Regions from separate parts of the Homo sapiens genome. Here regions 2, 3 and 4 are each linked to region 1. The links come from fine-mapping of genetic effects on gene expression. A gene starts in region 1. Each other region holds a variant in brackets. All regions are shown on one strand. Distances are from middle to middle.

Region 1 (7,882 bases):
TGAGTCCAAGTTACATTGAAAAGCTGGACTTCATGTCCCCGTGAAAGGCAGGAGAGGCTTGCAAAGCAGTGGGATCCTGGAACTCATTGACACTCCCCTGATGAAGGACTTAAACTGATTTCTCGTCCATTCTTTCATCTGACGATGGTGCAGCCATGATGAGTTGAGACTTTATTGCTAACCAGACCTGCATTTTTGTCCTGTCCCTGTCTCTTGTCACCTGTTTACCTTGGGCAACTCACTTTGCTTCTCGTCTCAGGATTTCAGTTTCCTCACCCGTAAACTGGGGACCATGACAGTACCCACCTTGTAAGGCTCCAGTAGGGATGAAACAAAAACAAATGTGAAGGGCTTAACACTCAATCATAATAACCAGTTGTCTGAGAGTTGAAAGTGTCCATGTTAGCTGTTGTTGCAACCCATTTGCTCATTCAACAAGCATTTATCAAACACCTATTTTGCCAGGTGCTTTGCATACATTTAAAGCATTTCATAATACCAGAGGCAGGTTCTATTATCCGCATTTTAAATAACCTCTTCTTTTGCTCGAGAGGTGCTTAGTATTCTTGGACAGTTTCAGGTCATAAGGGATTAAGGTACCAAAAAATTCTGGGGACGGGGTCATCCCCCTCCTCCAAGATCAGGCATTATTAGGCAACATGGTGCAGGGGCTAGGGAAAGGATTCAGGTTTAGGTTTGAATCCCAGCTCCTGGAAGCCACACACACCCTGCAGGGCAGACACATTTGACGGCAATAATTGAACTTAGCTTACCCTGCGAACGACCCTATGGTCTAAGAAGAATGTGTATTCACAGTTCAGAGCTAAGGAATCCGGGAGTGGCCAACCTGGAGATTCACTCCTTATCTATGAAGGATGTCTGGGTCCCCTGCCTATCCCTTGGAATGCAGGCTGTACAGGCAATTGAGGCCCTTGGTTTTGGGTTAAAGAGCCAAAACCCTTGGTTAAAGGGCCAAAAGGAAGTTGCTTAGATAGAAGGTGCTAAGCGAAAATGCTATATAAACTGCATGCTTTTTATATAAACATGTTTTTTATATAAACAATCGAGGCCCTTTGTTTTGGGTTAAAGGGCCAAAAGGAAGTTGCTAGGTGGAGGGTGCTAAGTGAAAATGCTACATAAACTGCATGCTTTTATATAAACAGTAGAGGTTCTCCTGTCCAGCCAGCTGCCACTGGATTGTCCCTGTATGTAAGTTCCCTCAATAAACCCTGTGTCTCGTTCACTGTCTCTAGGTCTCTTTTTTGGCCTCCTGGACATGGTACTATTCCTAAAGGAGTTAACAGTGGCCTGGCATGACACGCCTTGGGCAAATGACTTCATCTCTTTTTTTTTTTTTCGAGATGGGGTCTTACTCTGTCATGTAGGCTAGAGTGCAGTGGTGTGATCTCAGCTCACTATAGCCTCAATCTCCTGGGCTCAAGCGATTCTCCAGCCTCAGTCTCCCAAGTAGCTGGGACTACAGGTGTGAGCCACCAATGCCGGGCTAATTTTTGTATTTTGTAAAGAAACTTTTTGTAGGCTGGTCTTGAACTCCTGGCCTCAAGTGATCCACCCACTTTGGCCTCCCAAAGTGCTGGGATTACAGGCATGAGCCACCATGCCTGGCCAACTTCACCTCTTAATGCCTCTTTTTTTCTCACCTAAAGAGTGGGATAGTACTTGTGCCTACCTCATGGTAATCAGAGAATTAAAAGATCAAAATTTGTGTAAAGGGCTGAAAACAGTGCCTGGTACACAGACCTCAAAAAGGGTTAACTTTTTTTTTTTGAGATGGTATCTCATTCTGTCACCCAGGCTGGAGTGCAGTGGCACGATCTCAGCTCACTGCAACCTCCGCCTCCCAGGTTCAAGTGATTCTCCTAGCCTCAGCCTCCTGAGTAGTTGGGATTACAGGCACCTGCCACCATGCCCGGCTATTTTTTGTATTTTTAGTAGAGACGGAGTTTCGCCATGTTGGCCAGGCTGATCTCGAACTCCTGACCTCAGGTGAAAAAGGGTTAACTATTTTTACTTATGGGAACACCTAGCAAATTCCTCGAACTCCCTCAAGTGCCCCCAAGGAGCACCCGTTCCAATAGGCATCCTCCTCTGTGAGGCTCACTCCCCACCTGGCATGCCTTGCCATCAGTGCTGGAGAAAGATTGTGGATAAATACCACAAAGTGGTTAGGAGTGGCCACTTTGGGTTCACTGCTGGACTTGTGGGTTCAAATGTCAGTGCCCTGGGCTACCAGCTGTCAGGCCTTCATAGAGGCTTTACCTGTCTGGGCTGCAGTCCCTCATAAATTGGAGATAATCATAGCACCTCCCTCAGGAAGCAGAGTGAATAAGGCAACAAAAACAATTACTGAGTGCCTACTCTGGCTGGACAGGTGCTACCTAATAGGAGTGATCAAGGTACTGCAGGTTGAAATGAAATAACGCTTGTGAAGTGTTGAGGCGTGTATGCCTGCAGAATCATAAGCACTCAATATGCGTTACGTGCTATATGCTACAAACTAAATATATCATACTAAAAAATGTATAGGTCTGCTAGATTTTTAGACAAAAAATATATGCATCTGAATATCCATCTTTTGTTACTCCCATATTCATTTTCTCATTTATTCCCACAAATCAGCCCTGGAGGATAGGCAGGGTGGAGATTTTCTCCTGTTTTTACTGAGGAAAAAGAGGCACTGGGAGGTTAAAATTAAAATGCTGATAAGCTGGTGTCCGGCAACAGGAGATGACTGGGCATATTAAAAAGAAAACCGGCCCGGCGCAGTGGCTCACGCCCCTAATCCCAGCACTTTGGGAGGCCGAGGCAGGCAGATCACTTGAGGCCAGGAGTTCGAGACCAGCCTGGCCCACATGGTGAAACCCTTTCTCTACCAAAAATACAAAAATTAGTGGGCGTGGTGGCATGTGCCTGTAGTCCCAGCTACTCGGGAGGCTGAGACACGAGAATCCCTTGAACCTGGGAGGCGGAGGTTTCAGTGAGCCAAGATTACCCCAGTGCACTCCAGCCTGGGTGACAGAGTGACACCCTGTGTCAAAAATAAAATAAAATAAAATAAAATAAAATAAAATAAAATAAAATAAAATAAAATAAAATAAAATAAGAAATCCAGCGGAGGGCAATGTTCCACCTCGAATCTCTGAGTGGAGAGCCAGAGGCCTTGGGCTGGGAGGTTTGATGGAGGCCTCTGGGTCCAGGGCGCCCCAGCCACGAGGACAGGCAGGAGGGCGGCGGTGGACACGCCCCGGGGCGCACGCTCGCTGGCGGCCGCCTGCCCGTGGGCAGAGGAGCGCACGAGGCCGGGCACGACGCTGGGTGGCGCTGCCGGGCCGCCCCGCGCTAGACCTGTTGCGTCCAGGGCGCAACTCCGGCAGGTTTAGGGTAAAGGGGCGCTCCGCTCTCTCCGCGCGCCCCCTGCAGCCCTGGACGCAGCACCTCCGTTTGGGACGCCCTACGCCCACCTTAACTTGAGGCTCCCATCCACGCAGCCTCTGCAAGCCTCACCGCAACCGTGCTAGGCGCGTCGGGTGGGGCGGGAATAAAGTTTTTCCAACCCAGTTTGGGGAGAGGGCTGGATGGGAAGGACCCTCCCTGCTGCAGACTTCATGGCAGGCTGCACTGTGTCCCCTCGGCTCCACGGCTGCCCCGGGGGCGCTGCTTTCGGTAGGTGCCAGCCCCCGTGCCAGCAGGATGGGCTGACCTGTGTACCGCCCCCTCCCACCCCCTTCCCCATTCCCATCCCCTCCCCCGCCTCCTGCGCGCTCCGGCCCCGGCGTCTCCGGCCCCGCCTGCGCTGGGGTCGCTGCAGTCCCCGCAGCTGCCCCGGGCTGCTTGCCCAGGCGCCCCGGCCTTATTCCAGCCTGGGGAGCGCCTCGGTGGGGAGCACGGGACAGCGAGGGAGGCCGAGGCGGGGGCCCTGGGCGCCCGATATCTCCGAACCGGGGAGGCGGCCCCGATTCCGAGAGCCGGAACGCAGGGAAAGGCAAGGACGGGGCGGCCGGCGGAGGGGCGGGCGCCGCTCATCAGCCACGCCAGTCACGTCTGGGGCCACCGGCTGCCTTTTTCTTCCTTTCCCCCTTTGCTTTCTTCCCCCTCCGCTGTTGGCGAGGGCAAAGTGGCCGTGGCGGCGCCATGCCCGGGCCGGAGTGAGTGCGCGCGGGCGAAAATGGCGTACATCCAGGTAGGGCTGAGGCTGGGGGCAAGGTCCGGGGTGCGGGTAGGGGGTGCCGCGCCCCCTCCGGCTGGGAGCGCGCGGAAGGGAGGGCCCACGGCTAGGCTCCCACAAACTTGCTTCGAGAAAAAGGGTGCCCGTGCGCGGGCAACCTGTGCAGCAACAGGGGTGCGCCCCGGGAGGAGAGACTGGGGACCCCCAAACCCCGGGATGGAGGGTCCTATGTGTACTCTGCAACGCGCGCCCTTGCCTCTTGGGGAGGGAATGGGGGGTGGGGCGGACTTTTCTTCTCCCCTGCCCCCTCCCTCTCCTTGGCACCCCACCCCAGGGGAGGGGCCGTGGGGAGGGCGGCCCGGGGCGCGCCAGCCACCCGGCCCGCCAGCTGCCGTTGCCGTGGTGACGGCTCCGGCTAATTGGCCGGCGGAGCGAGCCTGAGGCAGCTGTTCCGACCAGGAGGGACAAGGACGTCGTCTCTCCTGGGCACTGGGTGCTGAGGGGTGGGGGACACCCAGAGGCCAGAGGCGCGCTGGTGAAGAGAAGGGAGCCTGTTACTTTACTCCGCTGCATTGGGGTCTGGGAGATGTGGACCCTCTTCACCTTGAAGAAACGTCCCCCAAGAATCCTTGGGCTGAAATAATTCTGAAATAATTTCTAAGCAGCCTTTTTTGGGGGGAGGGGGCGGAGGGGTGGGCCGGGCTTCTTGGTGAAAAGACCTTTCTCCTCTGCAAGAAGGGAAGTGACCGCAGGTCAGCGCCAAGGTCAAGCAGGCAGACCCGCAGTGAGACCCGTTGAGCTGCTTGCTTCTGGCGCTGGCGCCTCTGAGCTGGGCAGAGAAGCTTACAGACTCCCACGTCCAGGGTGCATCTTGGCTCACATCTTGTCCCCTCAGCCACAGCTGGGGGTGCTGCTGGTCCTCCCATTCCCCTCTGGGTCACATATCCCCTCATCGTGTCCTCAGACGCTTCAGCCTGCCGGGAACTCTGTGCTGTGTCACCTGGCGGAGCCTCTTCCATTCATCTCCTGCCTTAGATTCCCTGAATTGGCTTCCCTTTCGTGGAATCGCCAGTTTCTCTTCAAGTTCAATGAAGGTCACATTACTGTCCACCCACTGTGTGCTGAATGTTGTCCAGGGGCTATTGAGTAGTCGCCCAACAAACACTTGGGCGACCGCCTACTAAGTGCTGGCACTGGGGATACAGTGATGAAAACAGCACAGTTCCTGCCCCTCTGGGTGCGCAATTTAGTGAGAAATGAACATGATTACCGGCTCCTGGAGTTCTTAATGGCCGCCTTCAGCACAGAGAAATTAAGTGACTTGCCCAAGGCCACATAGCTGCTTAGGGGTCAAGGTGGGATCTCAAGAGGGGACTGTGGTAGATATGTTAAGCATCTCATATGGCGATGACCCAGTGATGTTGGTTTTCCTTCTAGAACAAGGTGTTAAACTTTGTTGTCCTGTAAAGTGCCAGATACTATTTTTTTTCTCTTGGAGGCTCACATGGTCTCTGTCACAACTATTCCACTCTGACTATAGCACCAAAACTGCTATGGACAGTAGTAAATGAGTGGGCGTGGCTGTGTTCCAATAAAACTTTATTTGCAGGCACCAAAATTTGAATTTTGTATACTTTGCACGAGTCAAGAGGCATTCATCTTTTTTTTTTTTCAACCTTTTAAAAACTCACAAATTATTCTTAGCTCAAGGGCTGTAGCAAAACAGGCTGCGGGGCTGGTTTTGATCTGCGAGCCTTAGTTTGCCAACCTCTGTTTAGAATGCATGGGTTGTCTTTCTTCCTCTTTCTTTCTGGTGTGAATTGGTTCTCTTCCATCGGTGTCAAACACGTGAGCCCAGGAGACCCAATGCCAGAAAGACTCAGCATGCCTGGGAATGTCAGGGCACCCTCTTTCATCTTCTTTGCTTTCTCTCTGCTCCTTGACACTCATCTTGCACCTGGGCTTTGAGAAAGTTGGGGAGGCTGTTTTTCAGCAGGGCCATGAGGTGACCTTGTCTCTGTTCACTTTGGTTTCATAAATGGCCTCTTTTGACCACCACATGTCTAGGAAATGCTTCCCTGTATTCAGAAAATGGTCATAGATTATTATGAAAAAGTATCACTTTATCCTAACATTCTAAAGCACTTTTTCATGCAAGCCCTATGAGGGTATAATATTTTGCTGTTTTGTGCCCTGCTGTACCTGCCGGGACAATACCCAGTGCCTACTGGGTTCCACTAGGTCTTGACAATCACCTAATTCTCATCACAGAAAGGGTGCATTTTATTTTTCAGCTGGACCGCACGCAAGTATTTGCATAGTCAGTGTCCTGTCCCACCTCAACAGCACGCCTTTGAGGTATAGAGTAGCCTTTCCACTAAAGAAGAGGTAACCGAGGCTCAGAGAGGCCCCCTGTCTTGCCCAAGTCACATGATCAGTCGATGGTGAGACTAGGACTCTAGTACTTCCTGGCTCAGCTTGTTGCGTGGCCCCTCAGCACCTTTGGGTCTTGTTCTGTGTATGGTTTGAGTTTTGGCTTTAGAGAGTTTGTGATAAGTGCCTTTGACTATTTCCCAAGCTGTTGCTATTCCCTTACCACTTCGAGGATTTCAATTTTTTCACAAGCCACGTACCACCTATACTATGATGATGATGATGATGATGATGATGATGATGATGATTATGATTATTATTTTAGACAGGGTCTCACTCTGTCGCCCAGGCTGGAGTGCAGTGGTGCGATCTCGGCTCACTGCAACCTCTGCTTCCCAGGTTCAAGTGATTCTCCTGCCTCAGCCTCCCCAGCAGCTGGGATTACAGGCGCCTGCCACCACGCCTGGCTAATTTTTTGTATTTTTAGAAAAGAGGGGGTTTCACCATGTTGGCCAGGCTGGTCTCAAACTCCTGACCTCAGGTGATCCACCCGCCTTGGCCTCCCAAAGTACTGTGATTATAGGCATCAGCCACCACGCCCAGCCCTACCTATGCTATTATTAACTTAATTTTTTTTCTATAAATGGGCTCATTTTTATTTTTACTTTAAAAAAATCATATGAAAAGGAAACATTATGTCACTAATATCATAGGAAACCAAGATCATGTGACATCGCAGAAGGCAACTAGAAGAATAAACCCAATGGGAATAATGCCACATTACTGAATTCTAGGTGGACGTGGCTGTCTCCAAGCCTCTGGACAAGATCTACTTTCTTTGTTTAAAAGAAAGGGGATGGGGGAGGGTGGAAATTGGTAAGTGGTAAAAGATGTTAACATGTAGTGGTACCAAATTGAGACTTTCTCCTCCTTAAAGGAGAATCGGAAAAAAGATAATAACTTTCTCCCTCTTGATTCAAAGTTCTGAGTTTGAGTCCCACCTCAGTTCACCTCTGGGACATGCCCGAGGTTGGGATGCAGTACTTCTAACCTATCTAGCCTACTTGGCCCATTTGGAAAACCACCTTAAAGAGAAGGAGGGAGTCTGTGCCTTGAGAACCCAGGAGACGAAGATGGGGAGGCGGGGTGGGGCCACAACAGGAAGGGAGGACCTCCTTCCTCAAGAGGACCAGATTAGGGCTTCCTTTTTAGTTCCCTCTATTTGTGGGTGGTGATAGGAAACACCCCACCATCACCATTGGAGCAGAATTGGAAGGTAGGGCCTCCGGGAGGGCGGGGGAGCCAAGTAACATCCACTGTGTG
Region 2 (7,882 bases), 42 kb after region 1:
TCACAACTCTGGAGGCTTATAGTCCAAATTCAGGGTGTTAGCCGAGTTGATTCCTTGCAGACCTCTACAGGAGAAACCACCCCAGGCCTCTCCTGTGGCTTCTGATGGCTGCCAGCAATCCTGGTACTCCTTGGCTGAGAGATGCATCCCTCCAGCCTCCACCTCTGTCCTCACCTGGCATTCTCCCCTGTGTGTCTTAGTCCATGTTTCTTCTCCCCATTTCATAAATCCAGTCCTATGGGATATAGGGCCCACCCTACTCCTGTACGACCTCATCTTGACTCAATTACATCTGCAAAACTCCTATTTCCAAATAAGGACTGTGGACCCCCATTGCTATAGTTTGGATGTGTTTCCTCTGCCAAACCTGATGTTGAAATGTGATCCCCAATGTTGGAGGTGGGACCTAATGGGAGGTATTGGGTCATGGGAGTGGATCCCTCATGACTGACTAGGTGCCATCCTCATGGTAGTAAGTGAGTTCTTGCTCTGTTAGTTCTGCACAAGAGCTGGTTGTTTAAAAGAGCCTCGTGCCTTCCCCATCTCTCTTGCTTCCTCTCGTGCCCTGTGATCTTTGCACACGACAGCTCCCTTTCCCCTTCTGACAAAAGTAGAAGCAGCCTGAGACCCTCACCAGAAGCAGAGGAGATGCTGGTGCCATGCTTCTTGTACAGCCTGCAGGACCACGAGCCACTTAATCCTCTTTTCTTTATAAATTACCCAGCCTCAGTTATTCTTCTATAGCAATGCAAAATGGACTAAGACAGTCATATTTACAGGTGTATTAGTCTGTTCTCACACTGCTATAAGAAATACCTGAGACTGGGTAATTTATAAAGAAGAGGTTTAATTGACTTACAGTTCTGTAGGCTGCATAGGAAGCATGGCTGGGGAGGCCTCAGGAAACTTACAATCACGGTGGAAGGCAAGGGGGGGAAAGAGATACCTCATATGGCCAGAGCAGGAGGAAGAGACAGAGAATGGGGAGGGGCCACACACTTTTAAACAACCAGATCTCCTGAGAACTCTATCATGAGAACAGCACCAAAGGGGGAAATCCACCTCCATGGTCCAATCACCTCCCACCAGGCCTCACCTCCAACATTGGGGGAAAGTTATGTAAGGTCACTACCCTCAATGAGCTCACAGCTTCGTGGAGCAGAAAGATAGGGAACAAGGTGGCCACTCCCTCAAAAATGAAAATGGGGCCAGGCACAGTGGCTCATACCTGTAATCCTTGGGGAGGCCAGGGCAACAGGATCACTCGAGGCCAGGAGTTCAAGGCTGCGAGCTGTGATCACACCACTGCACTCCAGCTTGGGTGACACAGTGAGACCCCGTCTGTAACAAAACAGGAAAAAAAAGAAAGAAAGAAAGAAAATGGAGCCTTACCTCATAACACAGACCAAAATCAAATCCTGATGGTCAGGAACTGATGAATGGCCAAACTTTAAGTTTTATAAGGAAATAAAGATCTTTATGAGCTTAGTATAGCAAAGCACCTCTTTAAAAAGTCAGAAAATAAAGTATGAACCAATGAAGGCAAAGAGGGATGCATCCTACCACATTAAAATGATGAACTTCTGCTTATCAGGAAACATAGTAAAAAGGATTAAAAGGCAAGCCACAGACTGGGAGGATACGTTTGCTATACACATATATTAGTTTTCTAGGGCTGTTGTAAGAAAATGCCGCAAACTGGTGGCTTGAAGAACATAAATTTACTCTCTGCAATTATTGGAGGTGTATTAGTCCTTCACACTGCTATAAAGAACCACCTGAGACTGGGCACTACTAAGAAAAGAGGTTCCGTTGACTCACCGTTCTGCATGGCTGTGGAGGCCCAGGAAACTTACAATCATGGTGGAAGGTGAAGGGGAAGCAAAGCACGGCTTACATGGCAGCAGGAGAGTGAGGGGGGAAGTGCCACACATTTTTAAACTGTCAGATCTCATGAGAACTCACTCACTGTTATGAGAACAGCATGGGGAAATCCACCCCACAATCCAATCACCTCCCACCAGGTCCCTCCCCTGACATGTGGGGATTAAAATTCCACATGAGATTTGGGTGGGGACAAAGAGCCAAATCATGTCAGGAAGGTGTTGGCAAAGCTATTATCTGTACCAGGCCTCTGTCACAGTGTCTGGTGGTTGGCTGGCAATATTTGGTGTCTATTGGCTTATAGATCTCTGCCTTCATCTTCACGTGGTATTCTCCCTGTGTGCATGTCTAAATGTCCTCTTTTCATCAGGACATCAGTCATTGGATTAAGGCCTACCCTACTCCAGTATAACCTTATCTTATTTAATCACTTCTACAAGGACCTTCTTTTTTTTTTTTTTTTTTTTTTTTTTGAGACAGAGTCTCGCGCTGTCACCCAGGCTGGAGTGCAGTGGTACGATCTTGGCTCACTGCAATCTCTGCCTTTCGGGTTCAAGGGAGCTGGGATTACAGACACCCACCACCACACCTGCCTAATTTTTTGTATTTTTAGTAGAGATGGAGTTTCACCATGTTGGTCAGGCTGGTCTCGAACTTCTGACCTCAAGTGATCTGCCTGCCTCAGCCTCTTAAAGTGATGGGATTACAGGCGCGAGCCACTGCACCCTGCCAGGACATTATTTCTAAATAAGGTCACATTCAGAGATCCTGGGGGTTGGAAATTAAATATGAATTTTGGGGAGGGAAATAATTCAACCCATAAAAACATGTAATTGCTGAATAATAGTATCCATAATACTTAAAGGCCCTTCTAGAAATTAATAAGAGAAAGACAAATACACAATGATCAAAAAGAAATGAGCAGGGTTTTCATAGATGAGAAAGCATAAGTAGCTGATAACACAACAAGGTGCTCACCTCTTTAGCAGTCAGGGAAACCCAGATTAAACCCACAAGATACCCATCAGATGAGACTAATGAAAAGCCTGACAATAACAGACCAATATAATCCAGTGTGAAATGCAGCTTGTCAGCCTCACTGGGGGCTTATGGAGGAAGGGCATTGCACTCACATAGAAAGTCAACATTTCGGCTGGGCGCGGTGGCTCACGCCTGTAATCCCAGCACTTTGGGAGACCGAGGTGGGCGGATCACAAGGTCAGGAGATCGAGACCATCCTGGCTAACATGGTGAAACCCTGTCTTTACTAAAAAATACAAAAAAAAAAAAATTAGCCGGGCGTGGTGGTGGGCGCCTGTAGTCCCAGCTACTCGGGAGGCTGAGGTAGGAGAATGGCGTGAACCCGGGAGGCGGAACTTGCAGTGAGCTGAGATCGTGCCACTGCACTCCAGCCTGGGAGACAGAGCAAGACTCTGTCTCAAAACAAAACAAAACAAAACAAAAACAACAACAACAACAACAAAAAACCCTAAGTATCTAGCAATAGGAAAATGGTTAATATAAGTTACAGTATTTCAGCCTAATGGAATGTTGTATGTGAACATTTATAATGACACTTATAATGTCTAGATAGTCACATGGAAAATGTGTGTGTAATTCTTTTAGTTTTATTATATTTTATTATTTTATTTTTATTAGTACAAATTTATGAGGTACACATGAAATTTTGTTACATATGTAATATATAGTGATAAAGTCATAGTATTTAGGGCTTCTATCATTCTGGTACAATACATTTTTGTTAAATATAGTAACACTACTCTACTATCAAACATTTATTATTATTATTTTTTAATTGAGACGGAGTCTTGCTTGAGGCAGGAGTCCTGAACTCCCGGCTTCAAGTGATCCTGCCACCTTGGCCTCCCGAAGTGCTTGGATTACAAGCGTGAGTCACCGTGCCCAGCCCCAAACATTGAATTTTTTCCTTCTCACTAACTGTATGTTTGTACCCTTTAACCCACTTCTCTTTATCCTCTCCCCTCTGATCTAAGGGTATTTTTTTTTAAAAGGGTATTTTTTTTTAAAGGGTATTTTTTTTTTTTAAATACCCTTTTTTTTTCTTAAAGGGTATTTCAGAATGTGACTGTATTGTCAATGCAGCTATGCAAATACAGGGTTGAGGTATTGACAAAGACTGGGAAAAAAAGTGAAGAGAAGAAAGAAGAAGAAAGAAAAGGAAGTGAAAGCATTTGATGAAATGTGTAAAGCACTGGCATTGCGGTTGGAGTTTGCTTTTTAAAAAATCCATTTCTATTTTAATGTTGTTTGTGCAGCAGATTAAGAGACAATAGACTTTATCCAACCGGTGAGAGCAAAGGCATAAGGGGGCGCAGAGCAGCTGTGTTTGGGCTTCACTAAAATTTGTGTGCGCACATTTGAAACCCTTTGCTAGGTGAGAGAGAGCGAAAGGACCATAGAGAAGGAGTTCAAAGCAAACCTGTCAGGAGGAGAGCTGGGCTCTTGCTATCTCCAGAAAATGTCTTTTGTCCCAGATGATTTTCTTTGATTTCCTTTTTATTGATTAGAAATTAACTGTGTTGAAAGGCTGCCGGGAGAGAGAATTTTTGTCTGGGTAGAGAGGAGAGAGCTGAGCCACATTTGCCCAAGCCGGCTGCTGGATTCATCTGAGTAATTTACAGATTGTCTATTTTGGTTCTCCCTAGCCCACCCCACGTGGTTCGACCAAATTAAGCGCATCGGGCTCTTACAAGAAAGGAAATGAGGCCTGTTTATTTGTGACATCGCTTCCACAAGGGACGAGGTAGAAGTGGGCCTGTCACCCAGTTCCTTCTCCTGTCTTGGCTTCGATTCTGTGGGGGTTGGATAGGACAGGGGGTGGAACATCGTGCTGACAACCCCTCTCGGCCCGTGGTGTGGCAGCAGCTCAGCCTCTGTGTTGGGGGCTGCACTGCTTGATCTTGGATTTGTT[T/G]CTGGTGCTGTGAATATAGTAGTGGACACATGGGCACTTTCTTTGCCTTTATGGAGAAAAAGGTAAGGACCAAGTACCGTGAAGGAAATGACAAGGTGGTGTGATGGGAAATGATGGAGGCAGAGGGGTGTTTTCAACTGAGTGTTAATGGGAAGCTTAGATGAGGAGGTGACTGTTGAGTTGAGATTCCCAGGGAATAGCAAGTTCAAGCCTTGGGGCAGGTACGATCTTGTATTTTTTTTTTTTTTGAGACAGAGTCTCGCTCTGTCGCCGAGGCTGGAGTGCAGTGGCGGGATCTCAGCTCACTGCAAGCTCCGCTCCACCTCCCGGGTTCACGGCATTCCCCTGCCTCAGCCTCCCAAGTAGCTGGGACTACAGGCGCCCGCCACCAAGCCCGGCTAATATTTTTGTATTTTTAGTAGAGACTCGGTTTCACTGTGTTAGCCAGGATGGTCTCGATCTCCTGACCTCGTGATCCGCCCGCCTCAGCCTCCCAAAATGCTGGGATTACAGGTGTGAGCCACCGTGCCTGGCCAATGATCTTGTATTTTTAAAGAATAGAAAGAAGGCAGAGGCGGTTGGTGAGTGAAGTCTCAGAGGTAGGCAGGAATCAAATCATTTGGATCAAATCATTTCGATCCCGTAGATAAATTATTTTAGAGACCATTAGTTCTCAACTGGGTGATTTTTGCCCTCAGTGGACATTTGACGATGTCTGGAGACATTCTGAGACTTTACCACTGGGGAGAGGGGTGATGCCGCTGGCATCCAGTGTGTAGAGGCCAGAGATGCTGCTAAACTTCCTGTAGCGCACAGGACAGCTCCCACAACACAGAATGCTCCAGCCCAAAGTGGCAATAGTGCTGAGGTTGACAAACCCTGTTGTTGACCAGGCTAAGCACTTTGAATTTTATTTTGAGAGATGGAGGGTTTTAAACAGGGAAGTGAGGCCGGGTATGGTGGCTCACACATGTCATCCCAGCACTTTGGGAGGCCAAGGTGGGCAGATCACTTGAGGTCAGGAGTTCGAGACCAGCCTGGCCAGCATGGTAAAACCCTATCTCTACTAAAAATACAAAAATTAGCTGGGCATGGGGGCTCATGCCTGTAATCTCAGCTACTCGGGAGGCTGAGGCACAAGAATCACTTGAACCCAGGAGGCAGAGGCGACAGTGAGCCAAGATTGTGCCAGGGCACTCCAACTTGAGCCACAGAGCGAGATTCCTGTCACAATAAATAAATAAATAAGAAATAAACGGGGAAGTGAGGTAATGGCATGGTTCCGTTTTCTTTTAGAAAACCAGAATATTGGTCTAAATTATTTCAGCTCTGACATTCCAATCTTATCTCACTAAATTTGGATAAGGAAGACTTCACAGAGTTGGAGATCCTACCAGAACAAGCAATCCATTTTCCTTGGGAGGGCTGAACCCACTTCCTAGGAGGATTTTTGTATTTGGTGCTTGGATGTCCACTTTGCAGTGAAAAAGAATGGCTTAAGGAGAAAGAAGAAGGAAGGAAATCTTAGCTGGATCTTTCTGGGCTCTGGATTGTGGCTGGTGCTTTGGCCTCTTCAGATCCAGAGGGGACTGAAGACAGACTCAGTGGAGGCAGTGAATAGACTTTTCTTTCTTCTTAAGAGACAGGGTCTTGCTGTGCCTCCCAGGCTAGAGTGCAGGGGTTCAATCATAGCTTACTAAAGCCTTGTTAGAAACAAATGTGCAGTGTCACAAAGAAAATGAGCACTAAAACAAAGGATTTCCCAGTAAGGCAAAATTTACTTCTGTAGGAAGGTGTTTCTCACAGGTCTAGTCATCATGAGAGTGCACTGAACAAAGGAGGGAAGGGGTTTTTATCCCTAACGTAGCTTGTCCCTGCTACTGTGTCCTGCCTCCACAGGTTGGAGTTGGACCACACAATCTAAGCTGAACCTGGTTGGCTAACTTGGAAAGTGCGGGAATGCGGTTACACTGGCAGGAAGGACAGTTTTGGTGGGAAGAGCTGCTGTGATGGGAGGGGTAATTTACAGAGTGGGTAGTAGATGTAGGCTCTGTAGATAAGGACCAGTGGAAGAGTTGTTTACTGAAACCAAGACAGGGAGGTACAGAGAGCAAGGAAGTTTGGCCTTAAAAGTAGAGAACAAAGAACAAGGAAACTAAACAAGCTAAACCTTTGAAGAGGAGCTTCTCGCATCAGATAGCCTCAAACTCTTGGCTTCAAGCATTCCTCCTGTCTCAGCCTCCTGAGTATCTGGGACCACAGATGCATGCCACCATGCTAAGCTAATTAAAAAATAAAAATAAAGAAAGTTTAGAAATGGAAGGTGGGAAGGTTTTGCTTTGTTGCCCAGGCTGGCCTCAAACTCCTGGCCTCAACCCATCTTCCCACCTCAGCCTCCCGAGTAGTTGGGATTAGAGGCTCAAGCCACTGCACCTGACGAACTGTTCTTATACCAAAAGTTCCAAGTCTTCGGTTCCTGTTAAAATTTTGTTCAGGGTACAGTTATGTATTTAAAAAATCTGAATCAGCCCAAGATTTATAGGCTTAGTTCAGGATTTCTCACCTTTGGCACTAGTGATATTTTGGGCCAGACCATTCCTTGTTGAGGGGGGCTGTCTTGTACCTTGTAGGATGTTTGGCAGCATCCCTGGTCTCTCTCTACCCACTAGATGCCAGTAGCAGACCCTACCCTATTCCCCAGTTATGACAACTAAAACATCTCCAGATGTTGCCAAATGTCCCTGGAGGTGGCAGCAGAGAGGACAAAATTACCCCAGGTTGATGCAAGTTGGATGTCCTAGCACCTCATGGATGTCTGTAAAGATCACCATTAATTTCATGATCTTCCTAAGTGGGGCAAGTTGAGGAGCTGCTGGACTAGATGGTCCTGCTTTCTGTTCCTACATTCTAAGCTCCTTATCAGCTGGCTCCTGGTCAGCTTTTTTTGTTTTGTTTTAAATTAGAGACCATGTGTTGCTCTGTTGCCCAGGCTGGAGTGCAGTGGCACCACCAACATTCACTGCAGCTCCGAACTCCTGGGCTCAA
Region 3 (7,882 bases), 51 kb after region 1:
TCTCACCATGTTTACCAGGCTGGTCTTGAACTCCTGGCCTCAAGCAATCCTCCAGCCTTGGCCTCCCAAAGTACTGGGATTACAGACATGAGCTACTGCACCCAGCCAACTTTATTATTAATAATAAGTTACTTGGCCCTTGTATTAGTCTGTTCTCATGCTGCTGATAAAGACATACCTGAGACTAGGCAATTTACAAAAGAAGGAGTTTTAATTAGACTTACAATTCCACGTGGCTGGGGAAGCCTTGCAATCATGGCAGAAGGCAAGGAGAGCAAGTCACGTCTTACATGGATGGCAGCAGGCAAACAGAGAGAACTTGTGCAGGGAAACTCCTCTTTTTAAGACCATCAGATCTCGTGAGACTTATTCACTATCACGGGAACAACATGGGAAAGACTTGCCTCCATGATTCAATTACCTCCCACCAGGCCCCTCCCACTATATGTGGGAATTCAAGATGAGATTTGAGCGGGAACACATCCAAACCATATCAACTTTTATATAATAATATTGATAAATTCAGGATCAGAACACAACAAAGAGTATTGGGGCTTTAGTGAAGGCTTCCCTCATTCTGTTCCATCTGTATGGGGCACCCTTCCCTGCAATATTTGCTGGACTAAATCCTACTTATCAAGGCTTAACTCAAATGCCTCCTCCTCCATGAAGACTTCCTTGACCATGCCCCTCCCAAGAATAGATTGTGCTTCAGTCTGTCTTGGGTTTCATTTATATTGCTGATTAATACTTGAGCCCTACAATTATTTCTTTTTTTTTTTTTTTATTATACTTTAAGTTCTGGGGTACCTGTGCAGAACGTGCAGGTTTGTTACATAGGTATACACATGCCATGGTGGTTTGCTGCACCCATCAACCTGTCATCTACATGAGGTATTTCTCCTCATGCTATCCCTCCCTTAGCCCCCCAACCCCCAACAGATCCTGGTATGTGATATTCCCCTCCCTGTGTCCATGTGTTCTCATTGTTCAGCTCTCACTTATGAGTGAGAACATGCGGTGTTTGGTTTTCTGTTCCTGTGTTAGTTTGCTGAGGATGATGGTTTCCAGCTTCATCCATGTCCCTGCAAAGACATGAACTCATCCTTTTTTATGGCTGCATAGTATTCCATGGTGTATATATGCTACATTTTCTTTATCCTGTCTATCATTGTTGGACATTGGGGTTGGTTCCAAGTCCTTGCTATTGTGAATATTGCCACAATAAACATACATGTGCATGTGTCTTTATAGTAGAATGATTTATAATCCTTGGATATATACCCAGTAATGGGATTGCTGGGTCAAATGGTATTTCTGGCTCTAGATCCTTGATGGATCTCCACACAGTCTTCCACAATGGTTGAACTAATTTACACTCCTGCCAACAGTGTAAAAGCTTTCCTATTTCTTCACATCCTCTCCAGCATCTGCTGTTTCCTGACTTTTTAATGATCGCCATTTTAACTGGTGTAAGATGATATCTCATTGTGGTTTTGATTTGCATTTCTCTAATAACCAGTGATGATGAGCTTTTTTCCATATGTTTGCAATTATTTCTTAATTGAGGTGAAATTCACATAGTATAAATGTAATCATTTTAAATATACAATTCAGTGGCATTTAGTAAATTCTCAGTGGTGTGCAACCATCACCTCTATCTAATTCCAGTTCTGGAATTATGGAATTCCATAATTGGAATGTTCCATATGGAACATTCCCATCACCCAAAGGAGACCCTGTATCCATTAAACAGTCACTCCATATTTCCCCCACCTCCCAGATCCTAGCAATCACTCATCTACTTTCTATCTCTATGGATTTACCTATTCTGGATATTTTATCAATGGAACTGTACAATATGTGATTTTTTGTGTCTGGCTTCTTTCACTTTTTTGAGGTTTGTCTACATTGTATCAATGCTTCATTGTTTTTATGAATGAATAACCTACCATTGCATAGATAGGTGATGTTTTGTTTATCTATCTGTTGATGGACATTTAGGCTGCTTCCACTTTTGTCTATTGTGAATAGTGCTGCTATGAACATCTGCGTACAAGTTTTCATGTGGACATGTTTCCTATTCTCTTAGGTATACACCTAGGAATGGAACTGCTGGGTCATACACCAACCTGTTTACCAAAGCAGCTGCACCAGTTTTCATTACCACCAGCAGTATACAGCGTTCTTGTTTACCACATCCTGGCCAACACTGCTTATGATTTTGTGTGTGTGTGTTTATTATAGCCATCCTAGTGGGTGTGCAGCCCCTGGAATTTTGATTTGTTTTTATATCTTCCTTGCTCTCCACCAATAGATACTGAGTTGCTTGATGTCTGGGATTGCTGCTTAATCACCAGAAACCTTGTGTAAGGGTTAACCATGGGCTGAGTTTGAACCTTGTTCTTTTTGTTTATGATATATGATCTGGAGCAAGTCATGCAGCTCAAGCTCTCTAAGCTTGAATTCTTTCATCTGCAAGATGGAAGCCTCTGGAGTTGTTAAGGAAAAGAAATGCGATTCAGCTTTAGTGCCAGGACAGTGCC[A/T]GGACTATGGTGATTTCTCCATAAAGGTTTGCTGTAACAATCATAATCGTGACATCCCCAAGTGCTTGGACCTAGTACCTGTTACATGAGCGTTTATTAAATGAATCAATGAATCCTTTGCTATTGCACAATTAGCCCTCTTTTTTACTTTCTATCAACTGCTCCCCTGACTCCAGACAACAGTTTTACAAATTGATCACTCCCCAGATAAGGCAGACAGAAACAGTGGCCGGATCAATGGGAATGGTTCCCTGGAAAAGTACAACCTGAAATCCCTGTTGTGCATGCTGTGTATGGAGGATGGGATGGGTAGAGAGTACAGCAAGCTTGTATCTGCAAAGGGAAGAAGGAATAAAAGAGCTTTGCTTTCTTAAGATGAAAAACACTCAGTCTTCTTAGAAAAAGGATGACTTCAGGAAGTGCCTTGTTGAAGGTTCGATCAATGGCCCCAGGGGAGGGAAGGAACAATTCTATCCACACTTGAAGGCTGCAGAGGTGGCTTGAGGGGCTCTTAGGTATTGAGGGCCCAGAAGATGGCCTCACCACCTCCTTCCAGTTCTGTGAAGACTGCCAGGATTGGGCAGAGCCCCTGGGATCAACCACTGGGCAGCTTGCCTTGGTTCCTGTAGGCGTCTCTAGAATCCATTCATTCTGCCCACACTGGCCTTCTCTTTGTTCCTTTGAACACACTGACTGAGTGATGCCGGGTTTATTCCTCCCTCCCTCCATCCCAGACCTTGCACATGTTGTTCCCTCTGCCCCATGAGTCCCTATCCCTCTTTCCTCCCTCATTCCTCTTCAAACCTCGCCTCTCAGAGAAACCCTACCCCATCCACCGACTGAAAGGGCAGCTCCCACGCGAACCCCATCCATTCTCTTACACTGCCTAATTTGTCTTGTTTTCCTTTTTCATATTTATTTTATGTTTTTAATGGGAATATTTCCCACATAAAATAATAAAACAAGGCCGGGCGCGGTGGCTCACGCCTGTAATCCCAGCACTTTGGGAGGCCGAGGCGGGTGGATCATGAGGTCAGGAGATCGAGACCATCCTGGCTAACAAGGTGAAACCCCGTCTCTACTAAAAATACAAAAAATTAGCCGGGCGCGGTGGCGGGCGCCTGTAGTCCCAGCTACTGGGGAGGCTGAGGCAGGAGAATGGCGTGAACCCGGGAAGCGGAGCTTGCAGTGAGCCGAGATTGCGCCACTGCAGTCCGCAGTCCGGCCTGGGCGACAGAGCGAGACTCCGTCTCAAAAAAAAAAAAAAAAAAAAAAAAAAAAAAAAAAAAAATAATAATAATAATAATAATAAAACAAACACCCATGTGTCCATCTCCCAGATGTCGTAAGTCGCCAATATTTTGCCACATTTGCTTACTTCAAATCACTCCCTTTCAATCAACTGCATTGAGGCGGAACTTACTGTTTGTTGATTTTTGGCAAATGCACACGTAACTGCTACCACAATCAAGATATAGCATATTGCTATCACCCAAGAAATGTTCTTCCTTTCTCTCACTCTGCTATATTTTTCTTCCTAATACTTAGCATTACCTGAAATCATCTCATTTATGTATTTTTTAAAATCTGTGTGCTATCCATCCCCCCCACAGGAGTGTATGTTCCATAAAGTCAGGGACGGTTCTCACTGGTGTATCCTTAGTCCTGGTACATAGTAAACTGTTTTTTGTTCTGTTTTGTTTTTGTTTTGTTTTGTTTTGTTTTAAAATAAAAGGAAATATCACTGTGACTTATAAACCTGGGAGGAGCAAAGTCCAGGAGGACCTGGATGGCCTGGGCTCCTGAGAATTCTCCGCATTGCTCATACTAGAGTAGATGTGTCAGCAGGGTCATGCCCTAAAGACACCGCATCTTCCAAGCCCTTGAGAAGCAGCAGGAAACCCCTAGCAACAGTGCAAAAGGGGCTGAACTTCTTTTATTACTCAAGACACTCAGTTGACCATTCCTATTTTGAAAATCTCCATACTTGGATACCCAGGGCAGGGCAGCAGGAATGTAAAGGGGCAGAAATGGACAGATGAGGTATGATGTGAAGGGGGCAGGTCCCATCTAAAGGAGCACTGCACTGCTCTGTGGCTAGATGTTGGGTTAAAGAAAATTATTCAATGACATTTCTTTCTTTCTTTCTTTTTTTTTTTTTTTTTGAGATGAAGTCTCGCTCTGGTGCCTGGGCTGCAGTGCAGTGGTGTGATTTCGGCTCACTGCAACCTCCGCCTCCTGGATTCAAGTGATCTGCCTCAGCCTCCCAAGTAGCTGGGATCACAGGTGCACACCACCATGTCTGACTAATTTTTGTATTTTTACTAGAGATGGGGTTTCACCATGTTGGCCAGGTTGGTCTTGAACTCGTGACCTTAGATGATCCACCCACGTTGGCCTCCCAAAGTGCTGGGGTTACAGGCATGAGCCACTGCACCTGGTCCTCAATGACACTTCTTGAAGTATGGCAAGGCAGAATTTATTGAGGACCATCATGATATGTACAGGGACCACAGTAATGGGATTTTTCAGTCACAGAGAGAAACTAGGCTCAGCCTCAAATACAGCATAGACAAATGGGAATCTATAGCCATGGAGCAAAGTCGGGGGTCAGGGATTTTTTAAAAACATTACTAAGAGGAAGCATCAGAGGAGTAAGGGGGACTCTGGCTAAATCAACCTAGCAGGATTTTTGCTGGAGACAGGCCAGGGTGATCAGACATTACCTGAGGGATGACGAAGAATGAAGAACCTGTCTGGGCATGATGGCTCATGCCTGTTATCCCAACAGTTTGGGAGGCTAAGGCAGGAGGATCACTTGAGGCCAGGATTTCAAGACCAGCCTGGGTAACACAGGAAGACCTCAACTCTTAAAAAAAAAAAAATCATCCAGGCATAGTGGCACATGCCGTAATCCCAGCTATTCAGGATGTTAAGGTAGTAGGATCCCTTGAGCCCAGGAATTTGAGGTTGCAGGGAGCTATGATCATGCCATTGTTCCAGACTGAGTGATAGGGTGAGACCTTGTCTCAAAAAAAAAAAAAAAAAAAAAAGAGAGAGAGAGAATGAGGAATCTGACCAAACTGACTTAGCAGCGTTCTTTGCAGAAACTGGATTTTACAAGGTGGTGCACTGATGGGCCTAGGAGGTTTAGGAGCCTGACTAAAGTTTGGTCAAGTAAAGAATCTTTGTCACTTGCCTGGTGGGAATGCCAGCGTTACCAGATCTTCCTGTTTTTCAAGCAAGGCAAGAAACCCACATTTTTTAAAAATGTGGAATAGCCTGATTCTTGAATTGTATAATAATTAACAAGTAATTATAAGTTAAAATGTGATGTGGGGCAAACAAAATACACCTGCAGGCTGTTTGTTAGCAACTTCTGAGTTAACATGCGAGATTGTTTCTTGTTTGTTTGGGGACTAACTCACTCAGTACAGGAATCTTTTGGTTTGACTGTTCACCCTGTCAGTAGATGTTTATTGAGTATCTACTATGTGCTAGGCATTGTTCTAGAGCCGCTGGGTATTGTGCTAGGCATTTGGCATTAATTTGTTGAAATGACTGGCATCAAAAAAGATAGAGATGAAAGATAGATGATAAAGATAGATAATAGACATAGATAAATAGATGACTGACAGATAATAGATGGTTAGATTATAGATAGATGAGACAGTTAGATAGATAGATAGAGATGTTACCCTTTAAAGATACATATTGAAATATTACAAATAATATAATGACTGGGAGTTACTTCAGAGGAATATGGGGAGTTGAATGAAGGTGTAAGTGAGGGGAGATTCACCATGGGATGAGAATTTTTGAAGCTGAATGATGTTTGGGTACGAAGATGGTGGGGTATACTCTTCTGTCTGGTTTTGAATATGACTGGAAATTTCCCACACTAAAATGCTTGTTTTAATGTCCTCATCAGTTAAAGATGCATTCTGAAGGATATGCAGGTACAATGACACCATATCGAGGGCTTAGTTTAAAATATTCAGCTAAAACGTTTCACAAGTCAGAATATAGGTGAAATACCATTTGGCAAAATGTCGATAATTGTTACAATTTTGTGACGGATAGATGGAGATTTGTTATGCTAGTCTATTGTTTTGTATATGGCTGAAATTTTCTACAATACTTTTTTTTTTAAAAGGGGACAGAGAAGTGGGAGGCCTCCTGTTTTCTAGGTACCTTTGGCAGTATGGAGTCATGCACTTAGGTGTTCATGGGAATTTTCCACAGTGTGACAGAGCTGACATCAAGGGGATGGGTACTCTTCAACAAGGGATGTCACTGTGCCGAGTGTTGCTATCGTGAGGTTAGAAGCGTGGGATCTGCTGGGGACTCCAGGTTAAGAACAGATTTCTCACTCAGTTCCTCTGCAGGGCATTCTACCTCCCAGGTATCCTATTGGATGGCAGAATAACAGCAGTCAGAGTATCTGGAACCAAATCAGCCTCCCTGGGTTTAAGTACCAGCTCTACCACTTTCTTGCTGTGGCTTTGGACATGTTATTTAACCCTGTGAGCCTCGGTTTCCTCATCTGTTAAACAGAGTTAATACTAATACCTCACAGACTCATTAGTCATTACATGTAAAGCGCTTAGCGTAGTACATGGCAGTGAAGCATTTTTTAAAAAATTATTGCTGCTTTTGTTGTTATTGTTGTTGCTGTTGAGTGATCTAAGAGCGGAAAAAACTCAGAGATAGATGGACCACAATAATTAGAGGCAGAGATGAAAAGAAGTCACACACAGAGGCTCCCACTGTCAACTGATGCGCTCACAGCAACCTGTTTGTGAGCTGCTGCAATCAATTTCTTGTATGGTGGGTGCAAAAGGAATAAAAGGAGAAGGCAACTTCCTGATCATTTCCTTTCTCTACAGAATGAAGTGGAGCTGGGGGAGCTGCTTCTGTCACTGAATTATCTCCCAAGTGCTGGCAGACTGAATGTTGATGTCATTCGAGCCAAGCAACTTCTTCAGACAGATGTGAGCCAAGGTTCAGGTACCGTGTGATTCCCCTCTTCTCTCACTTTATTAATGGGGCATCTGTGTTTGTGTGGAGAACCCAGTTTTCTTTTTCCGTATCCTGGATGAGCATTACTCATCTCAGGATGAGGCAGGTAAATGATGCCATCTTAGTAACCCTATTGGAATTGGGGAGTTGACTGAGACTGGTTGTGATAACTACTGGAAACTTAAAACCTATTTGAACCCAAGGAAGTGACTTGGCCTTTCCAAATGCTATTCCTGCAATGTAGACGCCATCCTGCAGGTGGCGATAGTGTGCATTGACTATCCATTCTAATCAATGAGCGTGGAGGACACACC
Region 4 (7,882 bases), 210 kb after region 1:
AAGGAACAAAGACAGAAAGAAACAGACACTCAGCACCCCAGAGCACAAAGCGTGATAAGAAGTGCGATCCAGGATATATATTTTGGAAATGCTCTACCATGCTATGTGCCAAAGTCTGGAAAGTTCCCAAAAGACCACCAGACAGGGACTGGTAAACTAACCAAGGCAGGGACTCACCTGCCATCACCGTCATTGTCTATAAGCACGTGGGTGCTTATAGAAAAGACACATTGAGCAGGGCATGGGCGCAGGCACCTGTAATCTCAGCTACTCAGGAGGCTGAGGTGGGAGGATCCCTTGAGCCCAGGAGTTCAAGATTACTGTGAACTGTAATCTGTGCCACTACACTCCAACCTGGGCCACAGGGCAAAACCCTGTCTCGAAAAGAAATCTTGTGCTCCATGGCCAGTTTGTACTGCTGCCCTGCCTGTTGCAGGCACAAGTCGAAGAGCAAGTCTGAGAGGAACCATAGTACTTCAACTTGCTGACACAATGATTGGGCCAGAGTGTGGTCATGTGACACTCAATGAACCAATCAAAGTCCTTCCCTTGCCTTTTAGAAACAGACTGGGAGACATTTACTGAGCACCTATTTTGAGGGACTTACAAGGTTTCCTTCCAGCTTTGAAATCCACGAACCTATAAAAATAATTCCATTTTTAATTCCCCACTTGGAAACAATGATTTGTTAAGCACTTATTGTATGCTAAGCAATATGATCTATGCATTATCTTTCAACAACCTTACAAGATAGATAATATTTCTGTTTCCATTTCTTAAATAAGGAAAGGTTTCCCAGAAGTTAAACAATTTGCTTAAGGTCAAACAGCTAGAAAGTGCTCAAGTTTGAAGTTTCAATTTCTCTGACTCCAGAGTTCAGAGTCTTAATTAATGGCTAAATTGACTCTCATTGACATAATTATGCTCTGAGCCCATCACTAGTTCATTACAATTTCTTTGAAAATACCATTTTTAATGGCTGTAACTTCTTTTTTATCTTGTGGATGCTGTATAATTTAAGTAACTCCCAGTTGTTGAATAATTAGGACATTCACAATCTTTGCCATTATAATCGGCATTTTGTTCTAAATCTCAGTCAGCAAACTGCAGCTTGTGGGCCAGATTCACTTTGCTGCCTGTTTTGTTGGAACACAGCCACGTGCATTTATTCCCATAGCGTCTATGGTTGCTTTCAAGGCAAAGTGGAGTAGTTGCAACAGAAACCTTATGTCCCACAAAGCCTCAAATACTTACAATCTGACTATTTACAGAAAAGGTTTGCCAACCTCTGTTCTAAATATTTATCTACAATGCTGATTCCATCCTTAGGATAAACATATAGAAAGAGAATCAAGGCCGCGAGTGGTGGCTCATACCTGCAATCCCAGCACTTTGGGAGGCCCAGGTGGGCAGATCGCTTGAGCCCAGGATCCTGGGCAACATGGCTAAACCCCATCTCTACAAAAAAAAAAAAAAAAAAAATTACAAAAATTAGCTGGCATGCACCTGTAGTCCCAGCTACTTGGAAGGCCAAGGTGATAGTATGGCTTGAGCCTGGGATATGGAGGTTGCAGTGAGCCTAGATTGTGCCACTGCTCTCCAGCCTGGGCAACAGAGCCAGACTCTGTCTCAAAAAAAAAAAAAAAAAAATAGAACCAGCCAGGTGCAGTGCTGCACACCACAGTCCCAGCTACCCTGGAAGCCGAGGCAGAAAGATCTCTTGATCCCAGGAGTCTAAATCCAGCCTGGGCAACATAGCAAGAACCCTACCTCTTAAAAATAAATAAATTAATTAAAAATTTAAAAGTAAGACCAGGTGCAGTGGCTCATGCCTATAATCCCAGCACTTTGGGAGGCCAAGGAGGGAGGATCACTTGAGGCCAGGAGTTTGAGGCCAGCCTGAGCAACATAGTGAGACCCTGTCTCCACACACAAAATATATACATATATATATAATTTTTTTAAGATAATAAAAGTTTAAAAATATTAAATTTTTAAAATCGAGACAGGGTCTTTCTCTGTCATCCAGGCTGGAGTGCAATAGTGCAAACATGGCTCACTGCAGCCTTGACCTGCCAGGTTCAAATGATCCACCTGCCTCAGCTTCCTAAGTAGCTGGGATCACAGGCGAATGCCACCACATTGGGCTAATTTAAAAAAAAAATTGTAGAGACAGGGTACCACTATGTTGCCCAGGCTGGTCTTGAACTCCTGGGCTCAAGTAATCCTCCTGCCTTGGCCTCCCAAAGTGCTAGGATTACAGGCATGAGCCACTGCACCTGACCTTAATTTTTTTTTAAAGAGAGTATCAAGTCAAATTACTTTTCAGAAAGTTGATTTCAAGCAACATTGCCACCAGCAGTTTGTTTAAAGGTTTCATATCCCAGGCCTTCCACCTTGGCCAGCCCTGGATGACATTATGCAAATAGAAATTGAGGTATTCCACTGTTTCAGGGGCCTCTGGGGATACAGCAGTGACCAAAATACACAGGTCATTGCCCTCATGGGGCTTGTAATCTATGAAAGGGGTGAGGAGATACAATAAACTGCTTGCCAAGTAAATATGTCATTTGTCAGACGGCAATTGGTGCTATGAAGAAAATCAAAGTGGTTGATTTTCCACCCAAGAAGGTGGAGTGGGGTGCTAGTTTACATAAGGAGTTCAGCATCTGTCACTGATACGATGACATTTGAGCAGAGAACTGAAGGAAGAGCATCCCAGGTGGAGGATAAAGCAAATACAGTGAACATGATATTTTCAAAATTCAGCAGGGAAAATCATTATTTTTAGATCCATAGTAGAGCGGTGCTGGGGAGTATTGAGATAACTTTGTCCAGCAGGTAAGTCCAAAGGTATTTCTGTTTGACTCTGAAGCCCCTTGTACTTGCAGCTGATTTGCTTCGAGATTAGGGTTGGCTAAAGCTAACACTAAAATTAGCTTTCGTTTCCTAAATAAACAGCAGCTGGCAGTACATTTGGGGGTGGAGAGCAGCCTGAAAGAGCAGGGTAACAAGAAAAAAAATTGAGGTTTTCACATTTGCTAAGGAAGGAGAGATGCATATCAGTAACTGAGTCAGGTGATATATTCAAGCCTCCCTGGGTGATGGTGTCTTCTGAAACCATAACATGTTAAAATCCTCACTGTCATCAGAAATATTTTCCTTTCCCTCCTCCTCCTTCATTCAATCACCAAATCCTGTAATATCTCCCTCAGAATGAGCACATGAGGCTGGGCACAGCGACTCATGCTTGTAATCCCAGCATTTTGGGAGGCCAAGGCAGGCATTAGGGCCAGGAGTTCCAGACCAGCCTGGGTAGCATGGTGAAACCACATCTCTACCAAAATATGTATATATATATATATACAAAAATTAGCTTAGCTGGTCATGGTGGCACACACCTGTAGTCTCAGCTGCTTGGGAGGCTGCGGTGGGAGGATCACATGAGCCTGGGGAGGTCAAAACTGCAGTGAGTGATGATTGCACCACTGCATTCCAGCCTGGGCAACAGAGCAAGACTCTGATTAAAAATTTTTTTTTTTTGCTGGGCATGGTTGTGCACACCTGTAGTCCCAGCTACTCAGGAGGCTGAGATGGAGGATCACTTGAGCCCAGGAGTTTGAGGCTACGGTGAGTTATGATTGTGCCACTGCACTCCAGCCTGGATGACAGAGCAAGACCCTGTCTCAAAAATAAAATAAAATAAAAATAAAATGCCAACATGATAATGTCACACTCTTATATTAGTAATGTCTGTTTATTCCCAGCTAGAACTCTCATCTTTGGCTTAAATAGACACTCACAACCTTAGCTCCTTTTCCATCCTTCATTCCTGCCACATCTGCCCCAGATGTGCTCTGCTCCTGCCACACTCACCTCAAATGTAACTGTGGTGGCCAGCATCCAAGATGACCATCAGGGATTATCATCTGGCAATGATGCCCGTGTCTGATCCCTTTCCATGTTGGATGGAGCTAAGCGATCTGTAGGATATTGCAAAAGTGGCAACATATAGCTTCCAAGCATAGATCATTAAAGATGTTGTGTCTTTCTCCTTGCTCTCTCTTGAGCTGCTCTCTTGGGGAAGTCAGCCATCCTGTTGTGAGGACGCTGAAGCAACCCTGTGGGAATATCAGTGTGGTGAGAAACTGAGGCCCCCAGCCAACAGCCATGCGCGTGAGCTGCCTTGGAAGCCTGACTTCACACATCCACCTGATGACTTCTGGAAGCCTGACTCCACGTGTCCACATCTGCTCCATCTCCTTCAGAACTAGGCTGTTGGCCAATGCCCCTGTTTGTGTCTTGCTATTTCACTTGGACTATGACTAGGATTCAGGGGGCAAAAATCACCAATTATGGTGAATTCATGTTTTAGTTGATGCAGCTCCCATCAGCAAGGGCTTTTGCCTTTTTTAATGAAAATACCCACCTGGCATGGTGGCTCACACCTGCACTTTGGGAGGCCGAGGCAGGTGTATCGCTTGAGCCCAGGAGTTCAAAACCAGCCTGGGAACATGGTGAAACCCTGTCTCTACTAAAAACAAACATTAGCCAGTCATGGTGGTGCACACCTGTAGTCCCAGGTACTAGGGAGGCTGAGGTAGCAGGATTGCTTGAGCCCAGGAGGTGGAGGCTGCAGTGGGCCATGAGCATGCCACTGCACTCCAGCCTGGGAGACTGAGCAAGACCATGTCTTAAAAAAAAAAAAGAAAAGAAAGAAAAGGAAAAAAGAAATACCCAAAGCCTGAGCTGACCTGGTGATTCTGCCACCCCTGCAATCCTGATTGAATAATGCAACCCAAATTGGTCATAAATTATTCTCATGTAATTTGAAATCATCTACCACAAGGAGAACAAACACAAAAACTGCATAATCTCACAG[C/T]TTGCTGATAAGAACAGAGGGCTTACCAGTGGCAGTGAGGGCTTGGTGCTTGCCCTTGAAAGTGGAGTTCTCATCTGGAATTTCTATAATAGACCCAGAGTCAACAGCCAGGTTCATGCCTGAGGGACCTCAAGGACCATACTGGTTGCTCTGTGAAATGACTACCCCTGGCTTTTGGGAGGTTTAGAGATGACTTGAGCTCTTCATAACTAAAAACATCCATGGCATTTGAGCCTCACCCAATCTCTCAACTTTGTCATTCCCTGGGGATTTAGGGTGCACCGTTGGCTGGGGAACCAGCTGGCTAAAGAGAGAGGCAGTGCACCTGAGACTGTACATGAGCCCGGGCACCTGAGACAGGGAATCTGAGACAGTACTCTCTGTACTTCTTTATCCTCCTCTATAAAGTGATTCTAATAATAGCATCTACCTCTGTAGAAGAAAAAATTATTCAATGGCACATGTTAAAATACGGTAAGGCAGATTTTTCAGGACCATCATGATAGGTATAGGGAACATAGTAATGAAATTTTGCAATGGGAGAGAGATTGGGCTCAGTCTTAAATGGCTGGCCGGCTAAGTGGCTGACTGGGAGGCTGGGTGAGGGGTAGGCTGGGAGGCTGGCCGAGTGGCTGTCTTGGAGGCTTGCCAGCAGGCTGGCTGGCCCGCTGAGATGCTGGTGGGCTGGCTGAGAAGCTGGTCGAGAGGCTAGCGGGCAGTCTTCCTGGCTGAGTGAGAGGCTGGCTGGCTGAGAGTCTGGCTGAGAGGCTAGCTGAGATGTCGGCTGGCTCCGTCTGGGTTGGATGAGGACACTTTGGAGGAGGGAGCAGGAATAAGGAAGATACCCTTACCACCTGCTATCCCCCAGAGCTGGGAGCACCCGGCGCTGAGGGTGGGAGGCGGCAGTGACCGGGCACAGCTTATAGCACCCGGCTCCCTCCGTGCACCCTCGGATGCCAGGAACACCTTCCCTATGAGCACTCCCCATGGCCCTACCGTGGTGGACTGCGGGCCGCAGTCTCTATCTTATCCTCAAAGGTTTTCTGTAGATCTAAAACTGTTCTAAAACAGAAAATTATGTGTGTGGGTAAGTAATTTCCTGGCTCAAAATAAAAGCTATTTTCATTGTGGTTAAGGGTAAGGTCACTGGATGAGAACCTGGTTTCCGATTATTTCCTGTGTGAGCTGGACCACATGCCACAACCTTTCTGAGCCTGTTTTCTCATCCATAAAATGAGGATATAAGACTAGAGCTTAGGTCTCAGGGCTGTGGCAAGAACAATTGCCTAGAGGCAGCCTATATTTCCATCGATAGGAGATGGATTAAATAAATTTTGACACATCTGTGCAGCAATTACCTCTATATGTAGATATATAGAAAATTATATTTATAGAAGGTTTATTATTATTATTATTAATATTCTGAGATGGAGTCTCTGTCGCACAGGCTGGAGTGCAGTGGCGCAATCTCGGCTCTCTGCAAGCTCCACCTACGGAGTTCACGCCATTCTCCTGCCTCAGCCTCCCGAGTAGCTGGGACTACAGGCGCCCGCCACCACACCGGCTAATTTTTTGTATTTTTGGTAGAGACGGGGTTTCACCATGTTAGCCAGCATGGTCTCGATCTCCTGACCTCGTGATTCGTTGGCCTCGGCCTCCCAAAGTGCTGGGATTACAGGTGTGAGCCACTGCGCCCAGCCTATAGAAGGTATATTATGAAGTGAAAAAGCAAGGTGGAAGCTAGACATAGTGGCTCATGCCTATAACCCCAGAATTTTTGGAGGCTGAGGCAGGAGGTTCGTCTGAGTCCAGGAGTTTAAGACCAGCCTGGGCAACATAGCAAGACACCCATCTCTACAAACAATAAAAAAGTAAAAATTAGCCAGGGATGGTGGCACATGCTTGCAGTCCTGGCTACTCAGGAGTCTAAGGAAGGAGGATTGCTAAGCCCAGGATTTCAAGGTTACAGTGAGCCATGCTCATGACACTGCACTCCAGCATGGGTGACAGAGTGAGACACTGTCTCAAAAACAAAACAAAACAAAACAAAACAAAACAAGATGCCAGGTAAGCCACCTTTGGGGTTAAAAAACCAAGAATATATGTGTATATGTTTGTAAATGCATCATACATCTCAGGACAAGGGCAGGGAAAATTTTACTGATTACCCCTTTTTTTTACTAAATAGACATATTACTAATACATGCTCAAATTTTAAAAAATGATCTTTAAGTCTGTGGCACAGAGGAAGTGTCAGGAAATGATGGCTATTTCTATTGTGAGACAATTCCTCCCTCTTCCCTTCCTTACTGGAGGCCACCTCCCCACCCCCAGTCCCAGCCTGCAGATCTGGAAAGGGATGGGTGGAACCCAGTTGTTCCACGTATGGAAGATGGAATGTGATGGAGGCGAGTGGTGACTGTGCAGTGACCTTAGAGAGAAGACCCAGCACTTCCTGCTGGCTGCACCTGGCACCTGGCACCTGGCACCTGGCCCTGACTTGGATCTGCACCTGAGCCAGGGAGACCTCAGTTTTTTTCTTCCAGGAGCAGAAGAATGAACCAGGTTCCTGAAGGAGACTTCCCACTCCCAGAAGAGGAACAATTTTACAGGAATAGAAATTGGATAGTTCTTCAGGAAACAACAGTCTCTTAAATCTCCTGTTTGAAGGAATAGAAGACGACCATTTAGGAGGATGTCTTTGTTCTCAGGAGGTACCTAGAAAAGTAGCTGGGATTGAGGTAGGCTAAAAGATGTCTCCCGAAGATTTCAGACCCTAATCTAAAAAAAAAAGTGTGAACATTACTATGTAGTGAAGAATTACTTTACTCACAGAGAGGTCTATCCCTTTGCCTCCAGCTCCTGGGGGGTGATCTCTAAGCCCCTGAGATGGACATCTTTATTTACCTGGATCCTTGGGTGACATCAGATAATTTAGCAATGTGATTTATGGTGGAGCTTTGTGAATTAGCCAACAAATGTATGATAATTTGTTGCAGC

The links. PIP is the estimated chance that this variant, and not a neighbour inherited with it, causes the effect.
Region 2: its variant is fine-mapped to the expression of SYT17 in whole blood (TOPMed, PIP above 0.99).
Region 3: its variant is fine-mapped to the expression of SYT17 in whole blood (TOPMed, PIP above 0.99).
Region 4: its variant is fine-mapped to the expression of SYT17 in thyroid (GTEx, PIP 0.98).

The regions. Positions count from the first base shown.
Region 1 is chr16:19,164,461-19,172,342 of GRCh38, forward strand. It overlaps SYT17 (synaptotagmin 17), which reads left to right and starts at 3,780. Exons shown (of 8, transcript NM_016524.4): 1 at 3,780-4,201. The coding sequence starts at 4,187. RefSeq lists a silencer at 3,176-3,425 and an enhancer at 3,617-4,364.
Region 2 is chr16:19,206,554-19,214,435 of GRCh38, forward strand. The region is part of intron 5 of SYT17 (synaptotagmin 17); the gene reads left to right. Among named protein-coding and RNA genes, the nearest start is that of SYT17, 42 kb to the left of the region's middle. The variant T/G (reference allele first, on the strand shown) is at 4,838.
Region 3 is chr16:19,215,610-19,223,491 of GRCh38, forward strand. SYT17 (synaptotagmin 17) reads left to right here. Exons shown (of 8, transcript NM_016524.4): 6 at 7,436-7,556. Among named protein-coding and RNA genes, the nearest start is that of SYT17, 51 kb to the left of the region's middle. The variant A/T (reference allele first, on the strand shown) is at 2,547.
Region 4 is chr16:19,377,554-19,385,435 of GRCh38, forward strand. All of the region lies in intron 1 of LOC105371114 (a long non-coding RNA gene), which reads right to left. Among named protein-coding and RNA genes, the nearest start is that of TMC5, 36 kb to the right of the region's middle. The variant C/T (reference allele first, on the strand shown) is at 4,883.